Regions from separate parts of the Homo sapiens genome. Here region 2 is linked to region 1. A link means that fine-mapping ties the variant in region 1 to the expression of a gene that starts in the linked region. Tissue or cell type: whole blood. Region 1 holds a variant in brackets; the other region holds the start of a gene. All regions are shown on one strand. Distances are between the middles of the regions.

Region 1 (2,764 bases):
GGGAATTGCTTGAATCTGGGAGGCGGAGGTTGCAGTGAGCCGAGATCGCACCACTGCACTCCAACGTGGATGACAGAGAGGCCGTCTCAAAAAAAAAAAAAAAAGAAGTATCTCAAAGCTATGCAGTCTTCCTAGCTCTACTGCCAGATCTTACTCTCAGTCCGGTGTCATCTCTTGCCTCTGAACTATTCCCCCTACTTCTGTCCTTCTCCCAGAAATTTTTCTCAGCAAATCAACCACTGAAATAGGACTGTGTTACTCTCTTACATAAATCCTCCAGTGCTCCCAAGCTGCTTCTTAGCCTGGCCTATGAATATCAGGTTCCTGCTTATAATGCTGGATTCCTCCAGTTTCTACCTCCCTTCTCTAAATACTAAATACCCTTCAGCCACACGGGCCTTCTGTGTGCTGGCTGTTCCCTCTGCATCAAACGCTCTTATTCTAGATTGCTGCCCGAGTTGCTCCTTCTCATCACTTAGGACTCAGCTCCAGTGTCACCTCCTAAGATGCTTTCTTTAAACACTCTATCTATAGAAGAACCCCAATGTTACTCTATTGCAAGCTTGCATTTGTAGTAGTAAGAGCAATGAGGAAAAAACTTATAGTTATTTTTAAAGTATATCTAGTTAGTTTTGCCTGCCTCTCCAATTCGACTGTAAACTCTGTGGCGGTAAGAATCATACTACATACTCAATGCCTGAAACAAGGTACGTATTCAAATACTTATGATTTGCTATTGAGCCAAACTGGGCAGAAAACCAAGTTTTAGAATCAGAATCTTAAACACTTTAAAGGCATTATGACAATGCCAACTAACTGTATTTGGATTCTTCAACAATTAACACCCAATATTTAGAACTATTGAACAGAGAAGTTTCAAAATCACATTTCCTTAAAAAAAAAAAAAAAAAAAAAAAAAAAAAAAGGCCCATGCATCCATATTGTGAGTGTATATAATTTTAAAATCCACTGAATTCACAACCAGGGGCTCCAGAAGGAAACAAACTTGTAATTATACTGATGCAACATTTTAAGAGACATTTTATAAACTATACTTTCTCTAATTTCAATAAAAGTCAAAAAATTCCTATCACTTTTAATAAAAATTTAAAAATACCCAACATCTGATAGTTATTAACCCACTGAGTGAATTAAAAAGCCTACTTCCTGGTGGGGGAGGGACATTATGTCCCATGCATGCCATCACTGTTCCTTAGTTTAATCTTGCTTTACCTTTTACCTTCTATTAACAATTTTTTAAATGGTTAAGCACTTACCATAATGTGATTGAAATGCCTGCGGTTTGACAACCTGATTACAGTCGTTACACACCACCAAGTAGAAATCATCATGGGCTGGACAGAAACCAAATATTGGCATGTCTGCAACACAGAAACAGAGCATCACTCACTCATCTGGTTCTGACTGATATAAAACCATTTTG[G/A]GAAACTACTTTCTAAAGGAGTTGCCTTATTGTAAAGTATACCAGGACAAATGAACTGATGTGGTACACCACCACTATTAAACAGAGAAATCAAATCAGGCTTACAGACACACTTTAAAAAGGGTTAAAGTGCACCAAAAATAATTATGATGTGGTGAAACAATCTTTTAAAATGCAAACAATGAATATATTTGCACAATAAAGCAACATTAGATGAACTCTACCAAGAGTTAAGGGAAAGAATCTGCAACCATGTAAACTGCTTAGTTCACAAAGCTGTACCATCTAATGCTTTTGTTTAACTGTGCATTCTATTCCAGCTCTCTGGTTCCTGAGTTCTATGGAACAATTAAGAAAGGGAGCAGAGACAGAGGAATAGAACTGCTGGTTTGCCAGCATGTCATATAAAGAAAATTATTTTAATATATTTTTTCCAAGTCATAGCAACCTCTAGTCCTTTTGCTTACATACTAATGCCACCAGAAAGGCAGAATGAACTTTAGTACAAACAGCATTTCATATATTAATCAGTTTGGTTACCAAAATAGGGTAGGATACGAGCTGTTTGTTTGTTTTAACAGTAAGACAGCAACTTAATTAAATGCAAAAGTAAAACTAAACTGTCTGCATATACATGAAAACTGAAAGTAACTTGATACCTGGTAAATATGGTTAACTAAAACATCTCAACCATTCAATTAATTATGAACAACAATTTGGGGAACAGAGCTAAAAGTTCAGATCCAGAATCTAACTTTTTAAGTATTTCAAAATCAGTGGATTTTAAACAGCATTTTACACTACATTCACTCTTTAGAATATCTGCAATGAATGGATAATTAGCACACTTCAATTTAAGCAAAAGTTTTAGTAGATCAAATACCAAGTTTAAAGGACAAGGGGGAAGATCCAAAAAGCTGATTAGCATCTACTTTCTTTCCTATGAAGATTTAATTTCACACTTTCTCCAGCCGGGGAGATCCTGGTGGTTTTAAAGGGAGAAGAAAATTCCTTAAGGAGATGTCAAGTGAGGATAATCTCTAAAATATCAAATTACTGATCTAGTATCTACACATGGCTATGGCTTGAATTTTCTTAAACAGTTTCTATTACACTGAATTGCACAGATAGCTAGCTATAATCCGAAATATACTAGAGTCTAGCACGATTTGGGGATGTACTTGCAGCACCGAGTAGTTTCTACAAGCTATTATTTCATTTTTATCCTCACAACTACCTAGGTAGACATCATTATATCCCCCCTCTAAAGAAGAGAAAACTGACTCACAGAGAGGTAAAGTACTTTGTCTAAGGTCAATA
Region 2 (2,500 bases), 89 kb after region 1:
GCTCCAAACAACTACACACAAGGCAACGTTTCTCATTGAGCACCCCCGCCCCCACTTTCAACTTCCCCTTAAGATAGGGACAGTCACATAGACATTTTTTGAAAATCAAAGAGAAAAATAAAAGCACCCCATCACGATCACCGACGAAATCCCGACTCTGTGGTGGAATTGGGTGCCGGGTGAGGACGATGGCAACACGCTCCTGGTCGCTTCGCGAACTCCTCCGGGAGGTCGCCAAGTTTCTCTTTCACCCTTTTTCCCGCACCCGCCGAGCCCAGGAAGGAAGGGGGCGGCCGCAGGGGCCGGAACCGCGCGACCTGGAACCCGGGGCCTTTTTTGATTGCCGGCCGCGCCCCGCGCAAGTGCCGGCGTTCGAGACCCGCCCCAGCGCGCGTGGGCGCCAACTTCGCGGGGACCCCCAGCGACGCGCCCCCCTCGGTACCCCTAGTCCCGCCTCTCCTGGGCTCAGCCGGATCCGGGCGTCCCCGTCACCCTCCCCACCCCCCAGGGAAACGAGCCCACCCCTAGCAGCGTCACCCTGGATGGGGCGGCGGGGCCGCAGTCACCTTCCCGGGGAAGAAGCCGGGACCCCGACTGCGGGCGGCCCGCAGCTCCCGCCGCACCCCCGCAGCCCTGGCGGCGTCCGGGCGAGCTCACCTGGCGGCTGGCTGCGGCCTCCGGGGCGGCCTCTGGGCGTGGGCCGGGCGGGGGCTGCAAGGGGGGCGGCGGGAGCCCGGGCTGCAGCCGGGGCCGCCGCCGGCCGCCAAGCCTCGCCCCAACTCGCGCCGGCCGCGGCCGCCCCCGGGGAGTACCGGGAGCGCGGGGAGCGCGGGTCCCGCGGCGGCGGCGGCGGCGGCGGCGGCGCGGCGCGGCGCGGCTCAGGCGTCGGAGCAGGCGGCCGCGGGCGCCGCCGCCTCCTCCTCCATGGCTGTTTACCCGGCTGCATTGTGGGAGTTTGACCTCCGCCGCCGCCAACCGCCGCCTCAGCTTGCGCCGCCGCCGCCGCCGCCGCCGCCGCGCACGCCATGGGAGCCGTGACTGACGGTGAGGCCCCGCTCGCCGCCACACGCGCCCGCTGCACGGCCCGCTGGGCCTCCCCTGAGACCCCTGGCCTCCCGGCCCGCTTCCGGGAACCCCTCGGCCTCCCCGGCCTCTTCGCCAGAGCGCTTCGGCCTTCCCGACCTCTCCCCGGAGCCCCGGGCCTCCCCGGCTGCTTCCCTGAGTCCTTCCTCCTCTCGCCAGAGCCCGAGCGCCCCTCGGAGACCCTCGGCTTTCCCCGTCCGCTCTCCCGGAGGCAGCGCGGGGCTATAGGGTGTGCCGGGAGCGTGGTCGGTGGGCTGGGAACACACGTGGGTGGCCGAGACGGCTAGAAGCGGTGCAAGGGCGGGTGGGACCAGAGGGAGTCCGGGTTTGTCTAGGGGCGCGGTGAGGACCCAGGAGCCGCGAAGGGTGGACAGTGGTGCCGGGCTTAGGGCTGGGGGCCTGGAAGGTTTGTGGAGGTCTGGGAGGGAGTGGGAGCTCCAGGGACGGGGCGGGAATTTCGGGACTCGTCTACAAGGGGTGTCAGGATACAGAGCGTGACACCAGGAGGGGTCCTGGGGCATATTGGGAAGCACTCACAGACAGTGGAGTCGATGGCAATGAGGCCTTGAACTGCGAGTGGATTGTGGGTGAGAAGGAGGAGCAGGGAATTATTTATAAAAGGAATAGATAGGGATGAGGTATCCGGAGGGTGATCAGGAAGTGTACCTGGGAGATTTACGGGGGTAAGGAGGAGCCAGTATAGTGATGAGACCGTCTAGGGTAGATCAGGACGATAAAAGATGTATGTGTGTGTGTTAGGAAGGGTGGTTGTCAGCTGGGATGAATTTAGAGGGGCAAAGGCTGGGTTTGTGGACAGTCTAAGGGAGATGGTCTATGGACTGAGAGCGGAAATAAGGTGACACTTTGGGGGAAGGGGCATGATTGGCAACTGGAGGGAGAACCTACAAGGTATCTGGTTAGGGAGGAAGGAGGTCCTTTGATATCTGGGAAGGGGATATCTAGGGCTCTTGGGTGTTTTTCAGGAGATGGTGACCGGTAACTGTAAATGCCTGTGGAGAGGCCACTTCTTAAGAGTTGAAGACCACCAGGGTCTCCACATTAAAGGGCCTGGCCATGGGAAGAACAGTGATAGGCCCAAATTTCCAGACTGATAAAGAGTAGTGGAGGTGGGAGGCTACTAAAGACCCAGGAACTTCATGTGGAATTTCAGCTTTGCTTCATTCCAGTTTCATTTATTTAGTGGATATTTATCCTTCCTGGACTAGGCTTTGGGATTACAACCCAGAACTAACAAGCAAGAACTTTTCCCTCTCCAAAATTTTGGTCTGAAGGGAAAGAAACATTGACTAATGAGTTTTAAGAGTGACAAATATTACCACAAGGAAGTACAAGGTTGGGAACTGTAGGAACATGTAACAAAGATTATTTATCCAATCAATGGAAATGAGAAAGCCTC

The links. PIP is the estimated chance that this variant, and not a neighbour inherited with it, causes the effect.
Region 2: it holds the start of ATXN7, and the variant in region 1 is fine-mapped to the expression of ATXN7 in whole blood (INTERVAL, PIP 0.97).

The regions. Positions count from the first base shown.
Region 1 is chr3:63,950,997-63,953,760 of GRCh38, reverse strand. It overlaps ATXN7 (ataxin 7), which reads right to left. Exons shown (of 13, transcript NM_001377405.1): 5 at 1,278-1,382. Among named protein-coding and RNA genes, the nearest start is that of PSMD6-AS2, 52 kb to the left of the region's middle. The variant G/A (reference allele first, on the strand shown) is at 1,445.
Region 2 is chr3:63,862,316-63,864,815 of GRCh38, reverse strand. ATXN7 (ataxin 7) reads right to left here and starts at 949. Exons shown (of 13, transcript NM_001377405.1): 1 at 658-949. THOC7 (THO complex subunit 7) reads left to right here and starts at 1,011. Exons shown (of 8, transcript NM_025075.4): 1 at 1,011-1,044. The coding sequence starts at 1,026. RefSeq lists silencers at 273-492, 503-742, 1,073-1,292.